Homo sapiens: one gene and its partners. The protein of the gene in region 4 purifies or fractionates together with the protein of the main gene of each other region. This does not show direct contact. Each region holds a gene or a part of one and is shown on either strand. Other genes may lie near its edges.

What was found.
Region 1: the proteins of PTP4A1 (region 4) and USP11 purify together in Homo sapiens (affinity purification with mass spectrometry, with the first as the bait; 2 studies listed by BioGRID). This does not show direct contact.
Region 2: the proteins of PTP4A1 (region 4) and CNNM4 purify together in Homo sapiens (affinity purification with mass spectrometry; 6 studies listed by BioGRID and IntAct, with this or other methods). This does not show direct contact.
Region 3: the proteins of PTP4A1 (region 4) and CNNM3 purify together in Homo sapiens (affinity purification with mass spectrometry; 6 studies listed by BioGRID and IntAct, with this or other methods). This does not show direct contact.

What each region holds. Positions count from the first base shown.
Region 1 is NC_000023.11:47,228,300-47,236,032, reverse strand, and holds the start of USP11 (ubiquitin carboxyl-terminal hydrolase 11), read right to left. Parts: upstream 3,025-7,733; 5' UTR 2,990-3,024; coding exon 2,814-2,989; intron 1-2,813. Other genes in the region: CDK16 (cyclin-dependent kinase 16), read right to left, coding at 6,973-7,013, 7,389-7,466.
Region 2 is NC_000002.12:96,763,900-96,770,923, reverse strand, and holds part of CNNM4 (metal transporter CNNM4 precursor), read right to left. Parts: intron 1-7,024. UniProt on the Homo sapiens protein: Probable metal transporter. The interaction with the metal ion chaperone COX11 suggests that it may play a role in sensory neuron functions. May play a role in biomineralization and retinal function.
Region 3 is NC_000002.12:96,819,265-96,826,288, reverse strand, and holds part of CNNM3 (metal transporter CNNM3 isoform 1 precursor), read right to left. Parts: intron 1,232-7,024; coding exon 1,088-1,231; intron 1-1,087. UniProt on the Homo sapiens protein: Probable metal transporter.
Region 4 is NC_000006.12:63,575,456-63,582,479, forward strand, and holds part of PTP4A1 (protein tyrosine phosphatase type IVA 1), read left to right. Parts: intron 1-980; coding exon of another isoform or gene 981-1,076; 5' UTR 1,077-1,425; coding exon 1,426-1,530; exon of another isoform or gene 1,531-2,981; coding exon 2,982-3,074; exon of another isoform or gene 3,075-3,442; coding exon 3,443-3,573; exon of another isoform or gene 3,574-3,801; coding exon 3,802-3,876; exon of another isoform or gene 3,877-4,558; coding exon of another isoform or gene 4,559-4,601; coding exon 4,602-4,719; coding exon of another isoform or gene 4,720-4,756; 3' UTR 4,757-7,024. Other genes in the region: uncharacterized LOC128125822, read left to right, coding at 981-1,076. UniProt on the Homo sapiens protein: Protein tyrosine phosphatase which stimulates progression from G1 into S phase during mitosis. May play a role in the development and maintenance of differentiating epithelial tissues.

The DNA of each region.
Region 1 (7,733 bases), on a different chromosome or scaffold from region 4:
CAGTACTGGTGGGGTAATTTTAAAGCGTATTATCAAGGATGACAGGATGTCATGTCCTACCAGTGACACAATCACAAGGCTACAAAGGTAGGAAGAGGCAAGGATCAAAGCCTCAAGGCCCTTTTGAACATCTTCAAATGAGTTACAAAACACTGTGGTTATTTTGTTTATTCTCAGGATGAAATGAGGCTTTTTCTTGCTGGAAAAGTGTGACGTAATGGCAGAAAAACACGGCTTGGGTTTGTATTCCCGATTTGGAAAATCTCAACTCATCTCCCCAGTAACAGAGATACACATTTCACTGGTGTGGTTATTAAAGAACTCTGTAGTGAGTAAACCTCACTCGAAAAAGCCCTAAGGTTAGATGTGTTTGAGGAACAGCAAGAGTCCAATATGGCCGGCCTGGATGGAGACAGGGAGGGAGTGCGTAATCAGAGGAGAGATATGGGAAGACATCAGAATGCAAGCAGGAGACCAGCTTCATAAAGGCTTGCAATTCATTGTAAGGATTTTAGCATCTACGCTGCAAGAGATGGGAAGCTGTTAAGAGTATTTTGAGGAATGGCTGGACATGATACATGTTTTAAAAATAATTACTGCATATGTAAAGAGGAAAATGGTACCTTTACAGTTGAGAAAGCTGGCCAACACTACCATAACCAAGTGATCAAGGTTAACATCACCAATGATGCCATGTGGATACCATGTATTACCCGATGCGAAGATAAGGGCTCACAGTATGCATCCAGTAGAATTTTATATATATGTATTCCATATATGTATAAAGTGAAAGCTTAGACAATACATACCGCTTAGGGATGCATACAGCTGTGGTAAAACATTAAAGAAAAGGAAGAGACTGTTAACTCAAAATTCAGGATAACAGTTTCCCATGGAGCAAGGAGGGGAATTTCCATCTGGGAGGGGCACAGAAGGATTTCTTAAGACAGTGTTCTGAATCTTAACATGGATGGTGAATTCACACGTTTTTATTTATTATTTAATTTTTAAACTTTGAAATAGATTGAGAAAAATGGCAAAAATAATACAGAGAATCCCCATATGTCCTTCATCCAGATTCTCCAAATCTAATATTTTACTCATTTGCTCAATCGTTGTTTCTTTACATGCATTTTTTGGTATTTTTATTTATTTTAAAATGGACAAAAATTGCATATATTTAGAGTGTACAGCATGAAGTTTTGACTTATGTATACATTGTGGAATGACTAAGTCAAGGCAATTAACACATCCATTACGTCACATACTTATTTTTTGGGGGGTGGTAGAACATGTAAAATCTTCTCTCAGTAATTTTCAAGTATACAATGAATTTATTAACTATAGTTGTACAATAGATCTGAACTTATTTTTCTTGTCTAACTGAAATGTTGTATCCTTTGACCAACATCTCCCCAATTTTATTTCCCCTCGCCATATATAAATTTATATATGCTAATTTTTCAGGCATTTGAGAATAAACTGCTTACACGATGCGTTCTTATCCCTAAATTTTTCAGTATTTCCTATAAACAAGGATATTATTTTTCACAGCCACAATGATCACAATTATTAGTAGTACTAGTATCTACCCACTTTAATAAAATTTCACCGACGTTTCCATTGCCTTTTACAGTAAAAGAGACAAAAATAATCTTATGATAAAAAATTGATTTTTAAAATAATTTTTTTTTCTGTTCCAGGATCCAATCGAGGATCACATGTTGCATTTAGTTATCATGACTCGTTAAATTGCATTAATTCCTTCAATTTGGAACAGTTCTTCAGCCTTTGTCTTTCATGATCCTGACATTTTTGAAGAGTGTAGGCCGTTTATTTTAACAGGATGTCCGTCAATCTGGGCTGCGTAAATGTTTTATATAATCTTTTTAAGTCTTACGTATTTCACAATTAAAAAACGAGATGCAACTCGGCGAGAAATAAAATGAACTCAGAAGCAGTAAATTTCAAGAAGGACTGTTTAGCAAGAAATCAGTAAAACAAGCCGATTTATCAAAATTCTATTTTTTAAAAAAACGACTTTTTCTTGATTCTAAAAACAAAACAGTACCAACACAGAAAACCAATTAAACATGGAAGGCCCCTCCGGTGCTAATCACCTGCACGTTCTCTCGACTCGGGAAGGCTTCCGCCAGAATCAAAAACCACGGCGCGTCATAAACTTTGCTTATTCGCAGGCGCCATTTTCTGCCTCATAGGCACCACCTCCCCTCCACTGTCGTCCCTCGGCCTCAGAGCACGCCCCTCAGCTCACGTCACCAACCTAACCTCGTTCCCAGGCTCCAGGCTCCTCCCCCCTCCCCCACGGAGGTCCCCGCTCCCTCCCTCGGACCGTTCGGCTCCATCCCGCTCTTCTGCTGACGTCACAAAGCTCGCCTCGTTCCCAGCCGCCCCGGAGCAATCGGAAACCGCTCCTCGCCCCCAAAAGTTGCATTACGCAGCGCAGGCCGCGCCCCCGCCTTATGTAGCAGAACCCACCTTCTTCCCAGGTTCCTACGCAGTTTCACTACGCAGGCCCGGCCCCACCTCCAGGACCGAAACTGGTCTCATCACAACAAACCCCATTTTGTTCTCAGGCGTCAGACTGCACCACACAGGCCCCGCCCCTTTTCCAGACGTTGCGATTCATTCAAAGGCACTTCCCCGCCCCTTTAGCCCGCTGTCCCGCCGGCCACTCCCCCGCCCCCGCACCCCGCAGCAGCTTTCCCGCGGCCCTCGGCCGCCGAATCCCCAGCGGTTGTCAATGCCCCCACCGTTCCCTCTGCCGAGGCTCCACCGCAGCCCAGCCTCACCAGCTTTCGCCGGCCCGCAGTGGACGTTCTCGCCCACTCTCGCCGTTTTCTATCTGGCGCCACTGGCTGTCCAGGCCTGGCAGCTCCTCGTGCTGTGGCTCTCTATCCTCAGTCACCGCCGCTGCCGCCGCCACAGCCGCCGCAGCAGCAGCTGGATTTGCTGCGACCGTCGCCATCGCCGTCCGTTCTCTTCTACAGCCAACGCAGCTGTGCGAGATTGGAAGACGCCCCTCAACAGCCACTTCCGGATTCTGGTCCCGGAAACGGAAGCAGAGCCCCCCAAACAGTCGCGGGGCTACTGCCATATTGGAAATGGCCCCGTGCACAGACGCGTCGAAGGGCTAGGTGGGGTAAAATCTTCAGTGGGAACCAAGAAAGACAAAAGTGCCTTGTGGGGTCCTAACGCCCTGTAGACTTAGGGCACAGGTGGCATGGAAAGTGGAGGCTGAGGTTCCCGAGGTGGGCTAGGACTCCTACCCTGGGAGCAGTGTTTTTGTTAGCCTGATCAGAATGCCCTTCATTGTACCATCAAAACCCAATGCAAAAGAGGTTTCCACCTCCAGAGACCCACCGAGGCCTGCGGGCTGTTGTTTCTCTTCCTGAACTAGATTTATTCACTAGACAAGGTGTTGAAGACAAGTTAGCCCCAGGCCCTATGTTTGTTGGAGTCATAGCAATCATAACTAAACTAGCTGTCCGCCCAGTTTAAGTGCTTTATTGGACTAAAATAGTAGCCTCAGGCAGCAGGTACTGTCCTTGTCACCCATGGGTAACAATGGGGACGCTGAGTACCAGAAACGTCCCTCAGCTAATTAGTGGTGGAGCTGCAGTTTAGACTTGAGAAATCTGGTTTCAGAGCTGTGACCTTAAACACCAGGCCAAACATTCTCCAACCGTGTGGTCCCAGTGGTCCCAGCCTGTCTACCGGTCCAAAAATCCTCTTGGGGTTTCACAAAATGAAAACTATTTTCACAATACTTTTTCACTCTCATTCTCTCAGGGGTGTACAGTGTGATTATCCAGAGGCTTCTGAATCCAGAGGCTATATGACATAAGCAAAAACTCTTTTGAATATCTTAAACTTTTAAGAACATAAAGGAATCCCGAGACCCAAAGTTTGAGAACCCTTGGACTAGGCCAGGGTCTCTCAACCTCAGCACTGTCATTTCTTTGTTGTGGGCATTGCAGGATATGTAGCAGCATCCCTGGCCTCTACCTACTAGATACCAAGTAGTACCCCTCAGGACAACCAAGTATCTCCAGACATTACCAAATGTCCTTTGGGGGAAAAATGTCTCTGGTTGAGAACCACTGCTCTAGGCTATGCTATTCTTTCCTCTGCTGGGGCTGCCAGCCCCGTTGATGATGACTTTAATTTCGAACCTCCCTTCCCCCTCACAATTTCATAATTTACCTATTTTCAGTTAATCTCTGCGGGGCAGGGATTGTGTCTTTATTACTGTGATTCCAGCCCCCAGCCCAGACCTGGCATAGATGAGGGGTCACAAACTCAGTTGTGTAAGCTCTGGGTGAGGAAAGGGAGCAGGCCTTTCACTTAAGGGTCCCCAAAGAAAGTGGCATTTGAGTTGAGTCAGACACATGGCAGATAGCTGCTCTTCAAGCCCAGTTGAATCTTGTCAGATTCTCTGAATTGATTCTCCCCATTGCCCCTCTGCAGACTCCCCCTCCCCATTTATCTGGGCAGCCAGGTAAATCCAAGAGACCTCCTTTCCCAGCCCTAGACCGTTTTTTTTTTTCCACCTTCCAGAGGCCAACCTCTGCCCACACCAGTGACCCTACCACTTCCCAGAGCAGTTGGGTGAGTTCTAGACCTTTTAAATCCAGCCTGGCAATCCTGTCCCCCTTTGCAAGGCCCTCCTTTTCCCATCCTCCCTTGCTGCCAGAAGTGGCCATGTCATCTGATTCTAGCCAAGAAATGGCACAGGAAGTCTGCTGAGGAGCTTGTGGAAGTTCCAGCCGTTAAAAGAACACAGACAGGTAAGGAAGGTGTTCTGTCTTCCCTGCTTGCTTTTCCATCTCTGGGGACATGGCAGTCATCATGGCACCATGAGGCTGCAAGCTGAAACATCACTAAAGTGCTTAGAAAGACACGGTAGAGGCTGGGCTTGGTGGCTCACACCTGTAATCACAGCACTTTGGGAAGCCGAGGTGGGTGGATCACTTGAGGTCAGGAGTTCGAGACTAACCTGGTCAATATGGTGAAACCCCATCTTTACTAAAAATAAAAAATTAGGTGGGCGTGGTTGTGCACGCCTGTAATCCCAGCTACTCAGGAGGCTGAGGCAGGAAAATCGCTTGAACCCAGGAGGCAAAGGTTGCAGTGAGCCAAGATTGTGCCGCCACATTCCAGCCTGGGCGACAGAGACTCTGTCTCAAAAAACAAACACACACAGTAGAGTGATTAGAAGTTCATGGGCCCCCACCACTGGGCTTTAGTAAACAGCCACTTAATTAGGGTTGCCATTACTTGCAGTATTTGCCTGGCCCTGCTCACCCCCTCTTCTGCTTAGAAAACAATCCTTGGCTTTGCCCAAGATGGTGGGACTGGGGCTGGAACTCACAGGACAAAGAAAATAAGTTTCAATTATCCTCATATCTGAGGGCAAACCCCAGGTTGTGTCATTGATCCCTGGCCTCTTGCAAACTCTCTCACCCATGCCCATGGTTTCTGTTACTTCCTGGACACTAATAATTGAAATTTCCAGGTCCATCTATGGCCCCACTGCTTAATTTGATCCATGTATTAAAGGATTTCTCTACCTACTCAGTGGTCCAAAATCTACCCCCTACCGTCCTGAACATTCCCTCCTCTTCATGGTTTCCTAGTCAGATGGCCATACTGGGCCTTTGCCTCATCTTCCCATCCATGGTTCTATTGGGCCGTCCAGTGTCTTTCAAACATCGTCTCTCCACTTCCCTGCCTCCACCCTCTTATCAGGCTTCCTCATATTCCTGGGCAAATCTAACTCCCCTTTCTGCTTCTCAACCCATCAACACCATTCAGCCTGCCCTACCTGCTTCAACTCCATGTTCTACTGTTACATATGCAATACCTTAGATGCCTTTTTCATAGTCGTGACGTGTCCCTGGCCCACTCCCAGTGTTTTCCTAGACAGTGGTGATGAGGTATGAATTCTCCAAGGTCCCAATAATCACCCCAGCTCGGCCACCCTCCACCCCTACAGGGATTTGCAAGCAGGCTTTTCACTTTAGACTTTTTAATATTTCATACAGCGATTATGGTGCATTCAGGAACCCAACCCCCCAAACCCACTAGGAGGGCTCCCACCCCTGCCCTCCCACCCCATTTCAGGGCCCCAGGGCTTAGGGTGGAGGAAGGGGAGGTAACCACCCATCCAGGGACTGACCCTGGAGACTGTCCCTGCCCTGCCTCACCCTCCCCAGGAGATAGGGGGCAACACCTGGGCACAACCCCTCACACCCCCCTCCCCCAACCCTGCTTGTGCACATATGCACATTATGGCTCCTCGCTGAGCTGGTCAGTTCCTGGCAGGGCCCCTACCCAACAGCACCGAGTGGGATGGGAGCAAGGGGACTGGGCTGGGGAGACCCTGAGAAGGAAGGAGGCCCCAGCTACGGGACTGCAGGAGAGAAAGAGTGGGGCCCCCCACCTTGTCCATTTCCCAGAGTCTCTGGTAGTCCCCAGATCCCCCTGCAACTGGGGATGGCGGGCGGGGGTAGGAAGGCGAGTGGCTGTGGCATGCTTTCCCATAGCCAATCCCAGGGTCTGGTGATGATCAGGGTTCCAAATAGGGGCTGTGTCCCTGTCTCTGAAAGGCTGGGAGCAGGGCTTCATTGCACAAAATACTGTGGGAGGGCCACACGCAGGGGGTGGGGCCCAGCCAGTCTGTATACAGAGATATTGCATTTAAAAAAAACAAAAATCTCATTTAAAATAATTAAAAAAAAAAAAACAATGAATGAAACAAACAAAAAAAGGCCCACACAATATGAGGCAGGTGGGGCAGGCAGGAAAGCAGGCAGAGGATGCCTCAGACTCAAGGCATTGTCACCATCTTGTCTGAGTCGAGATCCCCAGCCTGGGCTAGCTCTGGACCCCTGGCTGGCCGTGGGGTAGTGGTCCTGGGGGCTGGTATGATGGGGGGTAGACCTGGCCTCAGTGTGGGAGGCTGGCACGGCCATGCTGTCCACCGGCAACTACCAAGACAGAGACAGACAGACCAAGTGAAGGAGTGATGAGAGCTTTGTTAGCACCCAGCAGACAGGCCAATGGGTGGGTTGACAGGCCAATGGTGGGGTGTTTGGGCAGGCAGCAGGGGACAAGTGGGCAGGTGAACATGGCTCAGGCAGGTAGGCAGAGAGTAAGCAGGGAAGATGTAGTTGGGGGCTGCCCTGTGAGGGGTGTGGCATCCCTCCAGCCGCTGCCTGCTGGGGCCTCGGTCTGTGGCTTAGAACTCGGTGTCCACCACGCGGAAAGCTGGCCTGCCTGTGGGGGAAAGCAGAGCAGATGGCTGTTGGTGGGTAAGCAGGTAGGTGGGTGGGGCAGGGAGGAAGACAAGGGGCTATACCTACCTGAGTCAGGCATCGACGAAGACCGAAGGCTGGCCTCCTTTTGTAGCTGAATCTCCTTTAGTGCAAATATGGAAGTAGCTACAGATGGGGGAGACATAGAAGTGGGGGATGACCCATGAGGTCATCTAGGACCAGCCCCATATGACCCCATGGGAAGAATTAGAAAAAGCTGCCCCTTCTCTGAGAGGCTTGACCTTTATCTGTCAAACAATTCCATACACAAACCAGCTACAACCAGGGAAGATGAAATATAGACTATTACATGACACAAAGAAATCATTATTAACTTTGTCAAGTGAATTATGGTATTGCAATTACCACCTGTTAAGTCTAGGTGATGGGTGG
Region 2 (7,024 bases), on a different chromosome or scaffold from region 4:
GGCTGGGGAGAAGGAACCAGGAGGCTCTGCGAAAATCAGTCACCAAGGCAGCGACAGAGGCCTGGCCCAGGCTGCCTTTCCATACACACTCTCCATGGCTGCGCGGCCTTTCAGGAGCCAGCGCTCAGTGCAGGACAACCATGCTGGCCCCTGCCCTCAAGGAGACTGGAGGCCTGTAGTAGCGACTCCTTCAGAGGGGCCAGGCTTCCTTCCCCTCAAAGATGTCCTTGCTGTTCAGTCAACCAGGTTCATGTGGGAGGGGTGCAGAGAGAAGGCACCCAGGGATCCGCACCGCCAAGTCCGTCTAGAAAAGGAGGGGAAGCAGCCCGGGAGGCCTGAGCCACACCCCCAAAGCTGCTGCGAAGGACGGTGAGGCTCACCTCTCAGCCTTCGGGTCTTGTCCAAGCTCTCCCAGGGCAACACGTACCAGAGTGGAAAACGCCATGTCTACCCGCCCTAGCAAATTCCGCTGAAATGTCTTCCCAGACTTTTACTTACGAGACAGGCCTCCCCTTCCCAAGGGCCCCCTGCTGATCCTGTAGGGCCATTCCCTGATGTTGTGCTCCTGTGTATTCACCCATTTTCAAGGTTAAACATCTGCTCGGTGCTTCCCGTCCTGACCAGAGGTGAGCAGAAAAACACTGGAGCGGGATTTCCTAGTTAAAAATACGAGACCTTTGAAAAGTAAACACCAGAATAACTAAGAACCTATCAGGGCCTCGATGCACAGCATTGCCTTCCATTGCACAAACAAGAGCTCTGAGAAGAGAACTGTCAAGTGAAGACACGTGAGTGTCCTCTCAGTGCTGGCTCCTCTTTGGGAACCCGCCCATAGGCTGCATGGGGCCAGCCAGGAAGGAGGTGCAGCTGCCCACTGGCTGGCACGCACCAGGCCCCTCCACGTGCTCATGTTCCCTTCCCACAGCACTGCACTAAAGGGAAAGTGAGAAGGAGCCTGGCCACAGCTCTGTCAGCTGTCCCTGCTGGGACCTCTGCCTGCACCCGGAGTATTAACCAGCTCCTGTCACTCTCAGATACACCTGCCCCCAGGCAGCTTCTTGAGATCAAATCACCATATTGAGGCTATTACCAGGCAGGGCTGACGGAGAACCGGTGCAAAGCTGCCTTCGGGCACCACTTGTCCGAGGCTGCTCTCGCTGGGCACCCCACAGCCTAAGGTCCCATCCCACAGTCTGTGCATGGTCTTCACCCCATCTGACCCTCCAAGGAGGCTCCCGAATAGCGTGCCCCCTTGGTTCTCTTCGTCTCCATCAAGGAGTCGCCTCAGCCTGGCTTTTACACACTGACACCCCCTGCACTGTCCTTTCCTCTCTCACACATTCTTTTTTTTTTTTTTTTTGAGACAGAGTCTCACTCTGTCACCCAGGCTGGAGTGCAATGGCGCGATCTCGGCTCACTGCAACCTCCGCCTCCCGATTCAAGCTATTCTCCTGCCTCAGCCTCCGCAGTAGCTGGGATTACAGGCACCCACCACCACGCCTAATTTTTGTATTTTTAGTAGAGACGGGGTTTCACCATGTTGGTCAGGCTGGTCTTGAACTCCTGACCTCAGGTGATCCACCTGCCTCAGCCTCCCAAAGTGCTGGGATTACAAAGCCACTGTGCCCAGCAGCTCTCCATTCTGCCTGCTCTTGGCCGACTCCTTTTTTATTGAGACGGAGTCTCGCTCTGTTGCCCAGGCTGGAGTGCAGTGGCGCGATCTCGGCTCACTGCAAGCTCCACCTCCCGGGTTCACACCATTCTCCTGCCTCAGCCTCCCGAGTAGCTGGGACTACAGGCGCCCACCACCACACCCAGCTAATTTTTTGTATTTTTAGTAGAGACAGGGTTTTACCGTGTTAGCCAGGATGGTCTCGATCTCCTGACCTCATGATCCGCCCGCCTCGGCCTCCCAAAGTGCTGGGATTACAGGCGTAAGCCACCGCACCCGGCCTCTTGGCTGACTCTTAAACCTTTTAGCGTTGTCCTGGCCTTGCTCCTCAGCCTCACGTGGGCATTTTCCCCTGCATGCCTGCCTAGATGTTACTGCACACTGGTGTGGTCCAGGGCCAGCAGCATGGGCATCATCTGAGAACCTGTCAGAAATGCAGACTCTCGGGCCACACCCAGACCCACTGAGTTCAAGTCTGCATTTCAACAAAATGTCCAGGCAGTCGAGTGTGAGAAGCTCCAGTGTAAACAATGCTGGGCACGGAGAAGGAGCTCAGCAACGGGTCACACCATTATTATGACCACCACTTACCTCCCTCTGCCCTCACTAAACTGTCTCTTCGTCCCCCTTTCCCGATTGCAGTTAAATGACATAATCAACCTGAATCCCAAGCTAGAAACCTCAGACTTTCACAACTACTTCCGGGCCCTGACTCCCAGATCTCCACAAGGATCAACGAGTCTAGTTACTCTCACTTCAGAAGCATCTCACAGGCCTGCCCTCCCTCAGCCCCACGGCACCCTATCTGTGAGCTCTGTGCAGCTAGGCGTTGTTCACGTGTCTCTCTCCTTGGTAGACTGTGAGTTCTGTGAACAGGGCAGTTTTATTCATCTCTGATTCCCAACAGCCTGCACAGTGTCTGACACAGAGGCTTCAAAACGGTCACTGTTGGTTGAACAAATGGATGAATAAGCAGGTGCGGATGGGAGGGTGGGGTGTGGAGGATAAGTTACTTAAGGTGTGTCAGATAAGAGGAACCAAAAGTGAATGCAAAAATCATGCAGTGTTTTTTCTCAACTTCATAAAGTTGTTGCGGGAATAAAATTAAGTCAGTGGGAAAATCTGACACAGCCTAGATGAAAATATGGGTGTTTTGTTGTTGTTGTTGTTTCGTTTTGTTTTGTTTTTTGAGACAGAGTCTTGCTCTATCGCCCAGGCTGGAGTGCAGTGGTGCAATCTCAGCTCACTGCAACCTCCGTTCAAGCGATTCTCCTGCCTCAGCCACCCCAGTAGCTGGGATTATAGGCATGTGCCATCATACCCAGCTAATTTTTGCATTTTTTTAGTAAAGATGGGGTTTTGCCATGTTGGCCAGGCTGGTCTCGAACTCCTAGCCTCAAGTGACCCACCCAAAGAGCTCCCAAAGTGCTAGGATTACAGGCGTGAGCCACAGCCAGGAGGATTTTTTTAATGAAAATATTTCTAGCTTTTCCCCACCAATTTATACTGCACTACCTTGCTGAGAGGAGGAGTAACAGGTCCAAGGCCACCTCACAGGTCAGTGACCAGGCTGGCTGGAGTTACACCCAGGTCTATACAGGGTCTAGGTGGTTATAAGGTGGGTGGGGAAAGATAAGGTGTTTAAAGATGAGCTAAGTACCTGGGAGGGAAGGAGTGTCCCAGAGGGTGAGGCACAGCTAGAAGCTGGAAGGTGGGCTGCAAGGGGGGTGCAGAGCTCTGCCCTCTTCCTTCATTACTTAGCTTCAGGGTCTGGGAGAGTGGTGAAGGCAAAACACAAACTGGGGCAGGAGGAGCTGGAGGTGGCTTTGTTCTGAGATTCCAAGGTGGACAAACCCACCCACAACACCCAGTACTGCAAACAGTTCCAGGCGAGGTTTAAGCGGAAGGGCCAAGGTTCAAATCACAGGAGACTCTCAGGCCTGAGGGCTTGTCTCACCAACTCGATGATCTTACTCCTGTGGTCCTGCATCACCTAGCATCACGTCTTGCACGCAGCATGGGGTTCCACAGATATCTGGCACTAACTGCCGTGAGCTGGGAGACAGAAGTGCTGCAAGGCTGTACCCCTGCCTTACTCCTAGGGACACTCGGCCCCTACCTCTGCATCGATGCCCCTAGCCCGTCTCTAAGTGTGTAGGAGCACATTCATGACTCATCTAATGAGGGAAGCTGTGTAAACCCCCAGTGGCCAAAGACCACTTACTGGTGGGGAAACTGAGGCACATGGAGAGGAACCATGCATCACACTCAAGGCCCCAAACTCTACTTCTCAGTCCCTGACATGTCATCCCAGGCACTCCTCCTGTCTGTCCTGTGTGGCTGGAACTCTGAACCCGGTAAGTGCACAACACCCATTTTTCTTTGCACTCATCAGCTCCTCAGAATTCTAACACTATTAAAATGGGAATGATCCTCTGCCAAAACAGACAGGTATTCATTCACTCACTTACTCACTCAGTGCCATGGATGGAGGCCTTACTATGTGCCAAGAGCCATTCTAGGGGCTAGAGATACATTGATGAGCAAAACAAAGAGACCTGCCCTTTGAAACTTATATGCCAGTGGGAGGAGACAGACAGTAGACAACACAGTAAATCAGCAAATTACATAGATGCTAGAGAGCAATGTGTGCTACGAGAAGAGAAGAAATCGGCACAGGGCAGGGGAGATTAGGAAGTTGGGGTGGGATGGTGGGTGCAGTTTTAAACAAGGTGGCAAGAAGGCCCCACTGAGAGGTGACCTGGGAAGACAGTGAGCCATGCTGACTTCTGGAGAAGAATATTCCAGCCCAAGGAAACAACCAGGGCAAAGGCCCCATGGTGGGAGCATCCTGGTGTGTTTAAGAACAGCAAAAAGGGCCAGGCACGGTGGCTCACACCTGTAATCCCAGCACTTTGGGAGGCCGAGGTGGGCAGATCGCTTGAGGTCAGGAGTTCAAGACTAGCCTAGCTAACATGGTGAAACCCCATCTCTACTAAAAATACAAAAATCAGCCAGATGTGGTAGCATGCACCTGTAATCCCTGTTACTTGGGAGGCTGAGGCACAAGAATAGCTTGAACCTGGGAGGTGGAGGTTGCAGTGAGCCGAGATCATGCCAGAGTGAAACTCTGTCTCAAAAAAAAAAAAAAGAAAAGAAAAAAAAAAAGGCCAGGTGTGGTGGCTCACACCTGTAATCCCAGCACTTTGGGAGGCTGAGGTGGGTGGATCACCTGAGGTCAGGAGTTCGCAACCAGCCTGGCCAACATGGTGAAACCCCATCTCTACTAAAAATACAAAAAATAGCCGGGCGTGGTGGCGGGCGCCTGTAATCCCAGCTACTCGGGAGGCTGAGACAGGAGAATCGGAGGTGGAGGTTGCAGTGAGCCGAGATGGTGCCATTGCACTCCAGCCGGGGCAATGAGAGCGAAACTCCGTCTCAAAAAAAAAAAAAAGAAAGAAAGAAAGAAAGAAAAAAAGAACAGCAAAAAGGCCAGTGGGGCTTGCCAGAGAGTCATCCATTGTTCATTCATTTGTCCAACACTTACTGGAGACCCGTCTCTTTACCAAGCACTGAGTGGTGAAAACACTAAGAAGGCATGGCCTCTACCCTCAAGGAGCTTATAATGCTGGAAAGGGGAAAGAAAGAATACAAAGGCCCTAAAAGAGGATTACTTGTGGGGCAGAAGGACTCTGGCAAAGCTAGGCTCAGGACCCTCACCCAACCTGGGGTGGAGGAGGGTCCAGGACAGACCCTCAGAGAGAGATGCTGGGCTAGACAGTTGCCCCAGCTCTGACTCTGGTGCTGTTAACAATGCCAGCTGAAAGGCTGGGCAGGGTGGCTCACACCGGTAATCCCAGCACTTTGGGAGGCCAAGGCGGGTGGATCACCTGAGGTCGGGAGTTCAAGACCAGCCTGACCAACATGGCGAAACCCCGTCTCTACTAAATAAACAAAATTAGCCAGGGGTGGTGGCACATGCCCGTAACCCCAGCTACTCAGGAGGCTGAGGCAGAAGAATCGCTTTAACCCGGGAGGTAGAGGTTGCAGCGAGCCGAGATTGTGCCATTACACTCCAGCCTGGACAACAAGAGCAAAACTCCGTCTCAAAAAAAAAAAACAACAACAAACAAACAAATAAAACAATGCCAGCTGTTCTAACTTTGCTCACTTGTTTCTCTTAGCAAAAAAAAAAAAAAAAAAAAAAAAAAAAAAAAAAAAAAAAAACCATTCCCAACACCAGACTCCTAAACTCTTTTTTTTTTGAAACAGAGTCTTGCTCAGTCGCCCAAGCTGGAGTGCAGTGGTGCGATCTGGGCTCACTGCAACCTCTGCCTCCCGGGTTCAAGCGATTCTCCTGCCTCAGCCTCCTGACTAGCTGGGGCTACAGGCATGTGCCACCACGGCTGGATAATTTTTTGTATTTTTAGTAGAGACGGGGTTTCACCATGTTAGCCAGGATGGTCTCAATCTCCTGACCTCGTGATCTGTCCGCCTCGCCCTCCCAAAGTGCTGGGATTACAGGCATGAGCCACCGCGCCTGGCCAAGAAACTCTTAAATTGCAGATGTACACTAGGTGTGTGCTGTGTCCTGGGTAATCTCAGACTAAGAAGGTGGACGCCAGATTGGAAGGTCTGGAAGAGGCCACGCTGCAGGGAACCCGGTGTGCAATGAGTTAAAACTGGTTTTCCAAGACCTCTGAGAATGGGGAAGTAAGTGATGGCATAAAGCCGCAGGGCCTGTTCATTTGTCGGGGGTGGGTAGAGAGGGGGGACTATCACCATCTCCAGGGCGGCCTGCTGTGCTGGGCAGCCTGTGTGCAGTTCCCTGGGTTTACCAGCACTGCTCCAGGGCTTGGCCTCAGGCTACTGGCCTCTGTTAAGCAGAGTTTCCCGGAGTAAACTGAACCTGGGGACTCTGGCTCAGCAGAGCTCTGCTACGGCCTAAGAGATGCTAGCTCTGTTTTCCCAACTTAATGAAAGGGCACTTGACAAGACAGAGCCCAAAGACAGCCCTCTCAAGACCCAGGAGGCTCCAACCCAAGAGAGCTCAGCCCTGCTGATCAAGACTGGGAGACTGGTCAGACCAATCCATACTGGTTGGATCCAGATTCCAAATGAACTGATGGGAAGGTGCTACTGGGTGTGTCACAAACCATAGTCCCAAACACCACAGAGGCAGTGAGGAGGAAGTTGCCCTGGAGGGTCCTAATCAGGTTCCCAACTAAGCAATAGGAGAAGTCTTCAGGTCCCAAGGCTTAGGGTGGGGGTGGGGCACAGATCCTCACTGCTTTTCTGTCCCAGGCTCGGGTACCTGGGAAAACCTGATTCCTGGGTCTGCACTCCCAAAGC
Region 3 (7,024 bases), on a different chromosome or scaffold from region 4:
GTAAGCCATGAATGCGCCACTGTACTCCAGCCTGGATGACAGAGCAAGACCGTCTCAAAATAAAAAAAAAAAATTAAAAAATAATAACAGCCTCTCTGGCCACTGAAAAACTTCTCACTATAAAGCATGTATTCAAGGATTACCAATGCAAATGGGCAGCAATTAACCTGGAGACCCCATGCCTATGGCAGTCTCAAGAACGGAACTAGAGATGCTATGTTTGAAAATCGACGCATGATTAAAGCGATACTTCTGGAAGCATGCAGGGCAGGCGGCCCGGCCATGACGCACAGACTCTGTACAGCCCTGCAGACCTCAGCCACCATGCTAACAGGCGGACACTTTTACCATGCAATCAAGGGCACGGGATCAGCTGCTTTGGGAAGACTTATTTCCACCCCCTCCAGTCTCTCAGGCTGGAGCGCAGTGGCGTGATCTCAACTCACTGCAACCTCTGCCTCCTAGGTTCAAGCGATTCTTCTGCCTCAGCCTCCTGAGTATGTGAGACTACAGGCACGCACCACCACGCCCAGCTAATGTTTGTATTTTTAGCAGAGATGGAGTTTCACCATATTGGCCAGGCTGGTCTCGAACTCCCGATCTCGTGATCTGCCTGCCTGGGCCTCCCAAAGAGCTGGGATTACAGGCGTGAGCCACTGCGCCCAGCCAGGAAGACTTTCTTCATGGCAAACAGTGGGTTCTTTCAGGGGACATTTCTGTAATGTACAAAAGAACCTGCAAAAACAAAAGCACCTAGGGAGACAGAAGACTGGGAAAGGCCCATGAAGGGCAGAGCTCTCTCAGTAATGGAGGAAACTAATAGGACTGCTGCTAATGGAGCCCCAGGTGAGCCCTGGGATTGCAAGGCCACCGCTGGCACAGGCAACCATGCTTGTGTGGAGGTGCAGGCGTGAGCCCTCCTGCAAGGGGGCTCTCTGCCAGCACCCATGCAGGGCTCAGAAGGGGGCCTGGCTGTGGATCTTGCTGGGTTCCAGCAGCACAGAGGCCCACTGGCCTCTGACGCAACATACGCCTGGGGAAGTGTGCAGGCCCAGCGGAGACAGAACTGCCAAGAGTCTGGACTCACGGTAGTCTTCAGACTCGTCCAGGATCTCGGACCTGATGATCTCCTCGATCACGTCCTCCAGGGTGACCAGGCCCAGGACCTCGTAGAAGGGGTCGCCTTCACCCTCGTTGTTCACCTTCTGCACGATGGCCAGGTGGGACTTCCCTGTGGGGGGAGGACACTCATGGAACAGCTTGCTGGGCCCCCCCCAGTTTGATTCATCTCCCCTGGTATAGGCCCACCAAAAGGACACGGCTAACGTTCATGCTCCTACAACGTGCCAGGCACAGAGCCACACTCTTTTCTAGGTTTTTACTTAAGACTCCCAGCGTGATTATGAGAACTGGCCTTATTTTCACACAGGTTGAAAATGAAGCAGTGGGCTCATGCCCATCTGCACAAGGCCCCCCAGGCAGAGCTGGCAGAGCTGGGATCCAGCTCCAGGTCCGTGCACCTCCATGACATGGATGCAGTTTAGACAAGGATGCCTCCCTCCAGTGGAGAACACAAATGCCTCACACATCAGCCAGCCTGCACATGCAGGCTAACAAGGGCACTGACTCTGGAAACACAGGCTCTCCTGCGACAGTCCACACGGGGCAGCTGAGTGGGGCCACCCAGCCTGACTGTCCTTGGGAGGATTTCCTAAGTCTTTTTCTTCTTAAAGTAAATATATATGCTGTCCATCCTACATAAATGTGCATGGCTTCTTGTCCTTCTTTATGATAGAAATTAGAAAGAGATAGAAAGATAGACAGACAGACAGATAGACTGTGTGTATGTGTGTGTGTCTGTGTATCTTTTGGTTTTCCTAATTCTTAAAGCTGCCCATTAGGGGCTGTCAACTAGGGGATGAGAAGAGTGGTAGCTGGCCACTCGGGAGCCAAGCTGTGCAGGGAGGAGGAGCACCAGGCTGAGATTTTCCACCTTACCCTATATGTCTTTCTCAGGTTAGCTTCCTATTTGGTTTGTTTGCTTAGTGAGGGAATGTAAGCTTGGAAAAAAGCCCAAGTCTCAGAGTGCTGGGGAATGCTGGGGAGGCTTCAGGAATTTACTATGTCTCAGATAAGTGCTTTTCATCCACACTACGTTAGACCCGTCTGAAAAAAACAGAATGCAAGCCACCTAAGTAATTTAAAATCTGAATAGCTGCATTAAAAAAGTCAAAAGAAACACATAAAATTAAGTTTAATAATATATTGTAAGTAACCCAATATAGTCAAAATAGCATTTCAATACGTAATCAATACAAAAAATATTCATAGACATTTTGTCTATGTTGCACTCTCTGAATCTGGTGTGTTTTATGCTCACAGCACATCTCAACTCAGACTCCACCTTTAGGTAGCACAGCCCCAGGTGGAGGGGGCTGCCGGCCTGGGCGGCACAGGTCCAGGACAGGGGGATGGGAGCAACTCATTCAACCAGGCCCTCGTTTGTCACTAGTGGAAACGCTGAGGGGTAACTGGCCTGGACCTGCCTGTGAGGGGGTATCTGCTTCAAGACTCTCCTGGGAAATCAAACAGTCAAGTTTGTGTTGTTGTGTGGATCATACTTTACATCCCATGGGCTTGATTAAATAAAGCACAGTTCTCCAGGATGCTTGCATTGCCCTGGACAAAAAGCTGGAAATGGCCACATGAATCGTCTCCCCGCTTTCCGGGAGGAAGGCTAGGGCCCCTGGAGATTGCCACTCAGCCCTGCTGAACCGCGTTTCTAGACACCTTCTAACCCTCAGTGCTTGTGCTGGGTGCCGTCTCTACATGGGCCACGGCTGCCCCACCAGAGTACAAACCTGTCAGGCCAGGCCAGGCCAGGAAGGCCAAGTGCGACATGTGGTTTTGGTTAATGTCTTGGATTCCAGCACCAAAGCCCAGGATCTAAATGGCCACCTCGGCGCAGAGAGGCCTCATCTCGGCTCCCTTCTCCCAGGAAGCCAGCCCCTTTGGCAGGTTTCCTACAGAAAGGGACTCACTCCTTTGCTTTCAAACTTCTCTAGAACAAGGCACACAATTCTCCATGGCCTGCCACACTGGGATGATTCTATCACGAACAGAAGAAAGCAGGCCCTGGAAGATCCCCTGGAACAGTGGTCGTGTGACTGAATCCCAAGAAGAATGTCTGAGGGGTCTAGATGGCAGCCAAAGATGACAGCAGAGGGACAGAGCAAGGGCAGCTGCAGGGACTCAAGGTCACCTCTCATCTGCTGAGCCACCAGAGTGGAACCACTCACACTGATGCCTGCCCACAGGCCAGCTCCAAGGAGCCACGAGCAGCTCACAGTGTGTCTTGCCAACGTCAAGCAGAAAGCCCTGGAAAAGCTTCAAGTTTAATTTTAGTTAGCAGGCTCCAGGGTACCCCAATTATTTGAATGCCAAAGTACCCTTTCATAATGCCCAATTTCTATGATGTTAATAACAGTTGGAATACCTTCTCTCTTCTGTTTTCTAAAGCACCTCAGTGAATGAATGAATACTGTGAGAAAGACAAAAGTAGTGTGCTGACGCTCCTCACTGCTGTTGGAGCTGGTCAGACTCTTTTCCGCATCATGGCAATCATCTGGCTCCCAGCAGACAGGAAACCAGAGCTGGGTTCCTTTAAAGCAGAGACTGCGGCCAGGCACAGTGGGAAACACCTGTAATCCCATCTCTTTGGGAAGCTGAGCTGGGAGGATCGCTTGAGGCCAGGAGTTTGAGACCAGCCTGGGCAACATAGGGAGACCCCAATCTCTACATAAAATTAAAAATTAGCTGGGGATGGTGGTGTTCACCTGTGGCCCCAGCTTACTCAGGAGGCTGAAGTGGAAGGATCACTTGAGCCCAGGAGGTAGAGGCTACAGTGAGCCACGATCACATCACTGCACTCCAACCCAGGTGACAGAGCAAGACTCTGTCTCAAAAATAATAATAATAATGTTCTTGGCCAGGCGCAGTGGCTCACACCTGTAATCCCAGCACTTTGGGAGGCCGAGACGGGCGGATCATAAGGTCAAGAGATCGAAACTATCCTGGCCAACATTGTGAAACTCCATCTCTCCTAAAAACATAAAAAAGTTAGCTGGGCGTGGTGGTGCACGCCTGTAGTCCCAGCTACTCAGGAGGCTGAGGCAGAAGAATCACTTGAACCCGGGAGGCAGAGGTTGCAGTGAGCCAAGATTGTGCCACTGCACTCCAGCCTGGCAAGAGAGCAACACTCCATCTCAAAAAAAAAAAAAAAATAATAATAATAATAATAATGTTCTTTTGTACATTAAGGTCCCTTACTTAACAATGGTTCAAATTACAATTTTTCAAATTTGATGGTTCAAAAGCAATATGCATTCAGTAGAAACCATACTTCAAACACATATAACCATTCTGTTTTCACTTTCAGTACAGCAGTCAATAAATTACATGAGATATTCAACACTTTATTTTAAAATAGTTTTGTGTTAGATGACTTTGCCCAACTGCAGGCTAAAGTAAGTGTTCTGAGCATGTTTAAGGTGGGCCAGGCTGAACTATTTGGTTTGGTAGGTTAGATGTATCAAACACATTTTTGACTTAAGGTATTTTCAACTTACAATGGGTTTATCAGGACATAACTCCATTTGTAAGTCAAGGAGCAGCTGTCCAAGTTATTTATTATGGCTCCAAAGCACTCACTCTTCCTGGTGACGTCTGCACAAAATAATCAGCACGTCATCTCAAGTTGGCACTGATTGAGGGGCGCCTTGCTGGGGAGGTTACCTTGCCCCCAGACTACAAAGTTCCCTAGCAGACACAGCAAAAGAAACAAGACCCGGAATGAAAGCTGCCAAGATGGCAGGGACTCCAGCTCCACGAAATTCAGAGGCTCATTAGCTTGGCAGAGAGATGGAAAGGGAATCGATTTTTAAAACCTCACACGCCACAAAGACTGCAATATGCCCTTTGTTCCTAAGTGGAGGAATGCTTAAGAAGGTTAGGAAGGACAAAAAGGACTTTAACACGGAAAAAATAAAGATATTTGCCAAAGGACTGCACTGAACTAGAGAAGCAGAGAAAAAAGCTCCGGGATGTCACCAGAAAGACATGGCCAGTCTGCCCACGAATGGCCCTCACTCACCACAGGAGCGGGGAAGTCAAGGGGGATTAAAGAGCTCCCCATTTAACCTCCAGGTTCCAAAAACCTCCCCCACTGTCTTCCAAGGGGATCCTTTTCAGCATGTTGTCAGGCAGCTTTTAGAAAGGTCTGTTTCAAGCAGAGGCACTCAACCCCAAATCCTCCTGCATCGGGCTGCTTGTGACCTGCCTGGAGGCCACCCAGCCCAGAACAGGAGCAGCCCGGACCCTGGCCTCTCTAATTTCCTTCCTAGCTACATTTCAACCTGCATTTCAATCTGAACCTACTGGACTTGCCCATCTTAAAACCAAACAGCAGAAGGCCTCCTCCCCTGTCCCACATCCTCTGCCAGTCACTTCTCTCTGCAGCCACACTCTGTGGAGGGCTGTCTACATTGGTTCTCGTACCTTTCCACACCTCATTCATTCCCCAAATGGCTCCCTTGCCGTGGCACCAAATCTGCTCTTGCAAAGGTCAACGGCATCCTGTTTGCTGGCCTCCTCTCCTGTCACTCACCTTCCCTGGGAAAGTGGTCTCTTCCCTTAGCTTCCAGGACATTCCGCATCTCGGGAACTCCTCCTTCCTTGGTCTTGCCTCCTCCTGGCCAGCTTCTCCTGGGCTTCCCTTGCCCCTGACACACCTGTGCTCCTAGGAGGCTGAGGCTCTCTGCCTCCCTCCCATGACTTGAGAGACACTCCTATTCTGCCTCCCACTTGCATTTCACATCAACGGCCTGCTAGGAGTTTGCCTCTTGGGACACTGCACAGACACAAATTCAATGGCCAAAACCTGCTCCCCACGCCCGGCCCTTAGTGAAGGCGCACCGCCACCACACAGCCAGAAATCTGGGCCTCATCCTCAGCTGCTCCTCCTTGTTGCATAGCCCTGCTGCCAGATACCAATCTTCCCAATTCCACCTCTGCTGCCCTCTTGGGGCTCCTCTCCAGGCCTGCCATGAACCTTGTTCAGGTTATCATCCCCTCTCACCTGGATCCCTCACACCGCTGGTCTCCCTGCGCTGGTGTCCACAATTGTTACTGATCTGTAAAAATAACTGATGCTGCTGCTTGATGCTCATGGCCCTGGTGATCAAGTACAAGTTCCTTACACAGCACACAAGCCCCCCCGCCAGGGGACATCCTGCCTCTGCGCTCCTTCCCAACGAACATGAACATTTTTTATTCTTCCCCAAGTGGAATCCCCAACCACCCTGGACCAAGCTCATCCATCGCATCTGAAAGACAAGACCATGGCAGCGAAGATCCTGACACTGGCGGTTTGGAAAATGAAAGACCACTTTCACCAGCCTCATCCTGAGCATCATGACCAACTACAGAAGTTGCCTTTAGTTCTGAACAGGACAACCCTTCCATCTCCGCTGCTCCAAATCTCTGCTTGGTGACTGCTCAACTGTTGAAAGCAGCAGCCAGCTGAAGCCAGACACCAGAGTGAGCTTTTTCTTAAAGAATCTAGAAACGTGAGTGCTTTGAACACCAAAAGGACAGCTACAGTCTTCCACTTTTTCCCTAAAAAAAAGGAAGTCTGGTGACCTGCCTAGAAGAACAGAAATCTGCAATTCCAGATTCACCCCTTGCTCCTGGATTGGCAAACAGCTCACCTACCAGCAGAGCCTGTCCCGGAGTAAGAACCACCTGCTAACGCCAAGCACACAGCATATGCACGCCAGGCACTGGCCAAAGTGCTTGATGAGTCTCCCCCCGCAGGTCTGTTTACCCACTCTTATCACTAACAGCAGAGGACTTTGCACCACAAGAGGCTGAGCAGCCTTCAGGGCCTGGGGGCAGGCAAGGGCAGGATGGAACCTACTCCGCTGATTCCAGGGTTGCAATGTTGGCCACCACACCAGGAGAACCA
Region 4 (7,024 bases):
TGATATTGGCATAAAAATGGTTTAGTTCTTAAGGGGGAACTTAGAGAAAATATAAATACATTCATATTTGTTTATATTTATTGGTTACAGTAGTTACCTTGCTTTTGAGACCTGCCACTTCCACCTTCAACATCCCTTTGTCCGCCTTCTCTGAGTTGGATTTCAGTTTTGAGTTGTATATGTGAAATTTTGGTTTTAAAATACAAAAGAACATTATTAAAATTATGAATATTTTCTTTACAGTTATAAATGAGAGTTGTTTCCTTTTTAGATTCATAAGCATACATTCTTATGATATTTCACATAACAAGTTGATTTTCAGAGACTCATTTTCCTCGTCTTCAGTTTAATGGGAATGATAACAGATTGTTAAGGATAAAGTGAGATTCTAAATATAGGACTTAAATCAGTCTAAGAAAAGGATATAAAAGCATAAAGTTGGAAAAGAACTTAGATGTTTCAGTTTATGAGTTAAGTAAATTATGCAAGACTAATAACTTCAGAGTTATCTGGAGTTTGTATTAATGTGTAAAAATGTTTTTGTTAGTTGGAAAAATCAACATAAAGTGTATGTAATTACAATGTAAAGAAAACAACTATCGAAAGGGATAATTATTAGAATCATATAATTATATATTATATATAGATAGTATATATACAGAGAATATAACTAGATAGAATATATATGAATATATATATGAATTTCACAAAAATGTAACAATGGGTTTGGTTTTTTTTTCTGAGGAATCTTGGTAATAGATCATGGATTTCAGTTTAATCTATCTGACTGCTTGTTTTATGCTGATTGATTTAATCTGTACTCACCCCTTGAGTTTTGCAATTCAAGTAAAAGTCGATGAAGCGGCTCAGGCCCTGCTTTAGAAAAATAGTTGTGTACTTAAATAGTGTAAAACCCTAATGTATTTCTTTTGAATTGGAAAATAACTTATTCTCTCTTTCTGTCTTTTTCTTTTAAACAGCAATTCTGTGGTGTTCTTGGTCACACATTTATGGAGTTTCTGAAGGGCAGTGGAGATTACTGCCAGGCACAGCACGACCTCTATGCAGACAAGTGAACTGTAGAAACTGATTACTGCTCCACCAAGAAGCCCCCATAAGAGTGGTTATCCTGGACACAGAAGTGTTGAATTGAAATCCACAGAGCATTTTACAAGAGTTCTGACCTGGATGGGGTAAACCTCAGTGCACTTCTTTTCTGTTGGCCTCAGTATTACTGGATTGAAGAATTGCTGCTTCTTGTTAGGAGGTTCATTTCACTTATCATTACTTACAACTTCATACTCAAAGCACTGAGAATTTCAAGTGGAGTATATTGAAGTAGACTTCAGTTTCTTTGCATCATTTCTGTATTCAATTTTTTTAATTATTTCATAACCCTATTGAGTGTTTTTTAACTAAATTAACATGGCTCGAATGAACCGCCCAGCTCCTGTGGAAGTCACATACAAGAACATGAGATTTCTTATTACACACAATCCAACCAATGCGACCTTAAACAAATTTATAGAGGTAAGATTTGATATGTTTTAGTAGCTTAAATTGATTGCAATATAATAGTGGGACTTATAGCTAACAAAATAAAAACTACTTTGGAAAAAATGAGATGATATACCTACAATTCCAGTTCCCAGAAATAAATGTCAATGTCTTCTATAGGTTAGAGGTATATTTGTACATTTTGAGAAGGGCATGTGCTTGAGTTAATAGTTATTGTACCTGAGTTTGCTTGAATTGGTATGTGGACAGTAAAACAGTATAGCTCTTACTTATCTTGTAAGAAATTTACATGGGAAAGGTTGCCATTTATGGATTTTTTATATATCTGCTTAACCTAATGACTAATGCCATAAACCAGTTGGTTTTTCTTGAACCCCATCTGATGCTTAGAATCCAATTTTCAACTACAAATTCTGTTCCTTCCTAATGGTAGCTATGTAGCCAAAACTCTACCTGCCTCTTTTTACTAGGAGAAAGGAATTGAATGCTGAATAATATATCGGGATGTGCACATGTTTTATTTTATAAATACCTACAGTTGTTAAGAAATAGCAAATAGGCCTCTCAGAACATAATGGAAATACTTTTTTTTCCTTTTTTTGAGATGGAGTCTCGTTCTGTCACCCAGGCTGGAGTGCAGTGGCATGATCTCAGCCCACTGCAACCTCTGCCTCCCGGGTTCAAGCAATTCTCCTGCCTCAGCCTCCCAAGTAGCTGAGACTACAGGCGTACGCCACCTTGCCCAGCTAATTTTTGTATTTTTAGATGTAGTTTCACCATATTGGCCAGGCTGGTCTCGAACTCCTGACCTCAGGTGAGCCACCACGCCTGGCTGGGAAATACTTTAATGGTACTTTAATTTTTATTACTATATATTATATATACACTAATATATACTATATAGTGTATATAATAGTATATTATATTAGTAATATGTAATTAGTAATAATGCATTTTGAAGCCTGTAGTTTTAAATGGTATGTGGGCTTTTTTACTGTAGTTAAGACTTCATTCAATGTAAATCAGTAAAGTTTAAGGAGTGAGTATAATTGAGTGAAGTCAGATTACCCGATTAGTTATAAATAATGCCTTTAGTTACATTTACCTTTGTCTGCATTGCTGCTAGCCCCTTTTGGTTAATGTTTCATCCCAATCCGGTATTACCATGACTGTAAACAACTTCAGTGTATGAAGGGGGCACACAATTTAAACAAAAGAAGGAAAACTTTTCCAGTTTATTAAAAATATGTATGGTATTTAATATTCACTTTTCTTTTTATATTCTAGCATTGTCACTTAAAACAAAATTTGCTTTTGTGTTAAACATAAATGGATTCTAGCATTCTTTAAATGATCTTCTGTTAACCAGCATACTTACTGATCAGAGATGATCAGAATATAAAATGTTGAGTTATAGTGATGTGGTTAAACATTAAGATTTTTTTAATGTACGTTTTATCCAGGAACTTAAGAAGTATGGAGTTACCACAATAGTAAGAGTATGTGAAGCAACTTATGACACTACTCTTGTGGAGAAAGAAGGTATCCATGTTCTTGTAAGTATTTAACAGTTCTTATGGGTTTATGGTGCTGTGCTACAAAAGTTTATTCAAATAGTAAATTCAAATAAATATCTATTTAAGTCATAAATAGACCTCAAAAAGCTAAAAACAAATATTATATTATTGTGCAGAATCTTAATTTCTAAATAAAGGTGAAAAGCTAAGCAAGGATTTGAAGTTGTGAAACATTTTTGTAAAGATTGAGCATTTAGTCACATTTGGTAGACAACAGGGTTTAATAAGATTTGATTAAACATTAAAATGAGAATGCTTTTGAAAACATTTCCATGTTAGAAATTTAGAATTATTACTACAGTGTTTATATTAATGATCTAAAATGTTTAAATATTCTTCTGACTTAGGATTGGCCTTTTGATGATGGTGCACCACCATCCAACCAGATTGTTGATGACTGGTTAAGTCTTGTGAAAATTAAGTTTCGTGAAGAACCTGGTTGTTGTATTGCTGTTCATTGCGTTGCAGGCCTTGGGAGGTAAATGAATTTATCAATTTGATTCTAGGTAAAAATCTATTGATAATGAAAATACAGAAACTTGAAAAATTCTTATAATTTTTTAATATAAAGTCAACATTTGTCATAGGTATTACTTAAATAGGAAGGGTGGTAGATAATACTTCTGAGTTGGGGAATGTTTGGAGAAATAAATTTACAAAGATCTGATTTTGAAAAAACTATTTATCAAAATTCTTACCTCACCAGAGCTCCAGTACTTGTTGCCCTAGCATTAATTGAAGGTGGAATGAAATACGAAGATGCAGTACAATTCATAAGACAGTAAGTAATGGATTCTCTTTTCATTTGTACTCTCTTTCATTTCCTTGTTGAGTGTCAGTGAGTTTAATAGTCTAATAGCCCATTTAATCATTATGATTATTTTTTGAGATAGTATTAAAACCAGGAAATCAAGATCTTACATTCTTTTTTGCATTTCATGCAGTTGCTCATATTACTAAGATTCTAATCCAACAAGAGTTTTTGAATTATTGTTTTGCTTTAAATACTTGATTGAATATGTTGGTTATTTTGTATTTTTATTGAGGTATAATTAAGATACATTTAAAGATACAATAAAATGCACAGGTCTCCAAAGGAGACCAGTTGACAATAACAGCCAAATTAACCATCCAATACAACACATAGAATATTTTGAGTGCTGTAGAACATGCCTTTGTGGCTTTTGTAGTCATCTTCCCTGCTACCAGAGGCAACTTCTGACTTCACTATAAATTAGTTTTGTCTTTTCGTGGACTTACGTGTAAATGGATTTGTGAGTCGACTGTTGTAACCAATACTCAAACGAAGATATAAAGAAAATTAACTTTTTATGATTTTTTCCATTTACACTGATGTGCCTGTTCATATTCCTTTCTGCATCAGGTCACAGCCTAATTAATCAAAAGATAAATTGCCACAAGAGAGGTGATGGTTGTCTATAAGACACTAAATATTACTGTAGGGGGCTTTTGCCTTGTTTCATTTTTTTTTTTTTTTCCTCCCAGAAAGCGGCGTGGAGCTTTTAACAGCAAGCAACTTCTGTATTTGGAGAAGTATCGTCCTAAAATGCGGCTGCGTTTCAAAGATTCCAACGGTCATAGAAACAACTGTTGCATTCAATAAAATTGGGGTGCCTAATGCTACTGGAAGTGGAACTTGAGATAGGGCCTAATTTGTTATACATATTAGCCAACATGTTGGCTTAGTAAGTCTAATGAAGCTTCCATAGGAGTATTGAAAGGCAGTTTTACCAGGCCTCAAGCTAGACAGATTTGGCAACCTCTGTATTTGGGTTACAGTCAACCTATTTGGATACTTGGCAAAAGATTCTTGCTGTCAGCATATAAAATGTGCTTGTCATTTGTATCAATTGACCTTTCCCCAAATCATGCAGTATTGAGTTATGACTTGTTAAATCTATTCCCATGCCAGAATCTTATCAATACATAAGAAATTTAGGAAGATTAGGTGCCAAAATACCCAGCACAATACTTGTATATTTTTAGTACCATACAGAAGTAAAATCCCAGGAACTATGAACACTAGACCTTATGTGGTTTATTCCTTCAATCATTTCAAACATTGAAAGTAGGGCCTACATGGTTATTTGCCTGCTCACTTTATGTTTACATCTCCCACATTCATACCAATATACGTCAGGTTTGCTTAACCATTGATTTTTTTTTTTTTTTACCAAGTCTTACAGTGATTATTTTACGTGTTTCCATGTATCTCACTTTGTGCTGTATTAAAAAAACCTCCATTTTGAAAATCTACGTTGTACAGAAGCACATGTCTTTAATGTCTTCAGACAAAAAAGCCTTACATTAATTTAATGTTTGCACTCTGAGGTGCAACTTAACAGGGAGGGCCTGAGAAAAGAATGGGAGGGGGCTATTAATTATTTTTAGCAAAATGTTGCCTTTGTCTTGTGCAAACATGTAGAATATGCTCTTTAATTTAGTAAAATATTTTTTTAAAAGGTAGAGATGCTTTGTTATTGTAATCATAAACTTCCTGAAATTCTTGTAATTTTTTTCCCATACTTATCAGAAGTGTGTTTACCAACTTATTTTTGTTTGAAAGTGTGATTTTTTTTTTCCTTCCCAACCTCTCTTGCAAAAAAAGAAATGGGTTTCTGCTAATGAATTGAGCAGACATCTAATATTTTATATGCCTTTTGAGCTGTGTAACTTAATATTTGGATACTTGACAATTTGTTTTATTATGTAATTGATAAAATGGTGATGTGTATTAATGTTAGTTCAACCATATATTTATACTGTCTGGGGATGTGTGGTTATAGTTCTGTGGGAGAAATAATTTTGTCAGTGTTCACCAGCTTGTAAAAACTTAGTGCGAGAGCTGAAACATCTAAATAAATAATGACATGCATTTATCATCATTGAGATTGGTTTGCTTAAAATTAACTTATTTTGTAGAAGACAAAATGAATTGCACTTCACTTAATGTGTGTCCTCATCTTTTTACAAATAAATGAAGGATTATAAATGATGTCAGCATTTTAGTAAACTTTTAGACAAAATTTGTTAGGGTCATTCATGAAAACTTTAATACTAAAAGCACTTTCCATTATATACTTTTTAAAGGTCTAGATAATTTTGAACCAATTTATTATTGTGTACTGAGGAGAAATAATGTATAGTAGAGGACAGCCTTGGTTTGTAAAGCTCAGTTCCACTAGTTCATGGTTTTGTGCAACTTCTGAGCCTCAGTTTTCTCCTTTGCAAATTAATAATTACATACCTTTATAGATTTTGAAATTAATTTAAATATTAGTATTTGGTACATGAAGGCTTAATGTTAAGTTTCCTTTAATGATCCACAATAATCCCTTTGATCACGTTAATCTAAATCTAGATGTCTTTGTCTAATTTTTTTTGAATAGCAGTTATAAATGTAAAGGACTCAAAGTTTAAGTAAAAAGTGATACTCCACCTTGTGTTTCAAAGAATTTAGTTCCACCTCTTCATACCAGTTTAACACTTAATATATTTCATTGGATTTTAGACAGGGCAAAAGGAAGAACAGGGGCCTCTGGAGGCCCTTGGTTATTTAAATCTTGGATTATTTGTGATAGTAATCACAAATTTTTGGCTAATTTTTAACCTGAGGTTTTGTTTTTTTTTTAAAGGAAATGCAGCCTAGTCTTGAGAACATAATTTTATATAATCAATTACTAAATGTTAAACTATTACCACACAGCCCATAAAACAGCATTTGCGTTTATTGAGAGAGAGGATGTGCCATCATGATTAATGAAAACTATCTTTTGAGTTTGAAAAGAAATTAATTTGCAGTGTTTGGATTGTATATATGGTGCTAAAAATAAATTAATTTACTTTATAAACCTTATCTGTACATTATACGATGTGATGAAATTTGCTTTTTATCCAAATATTTTGTA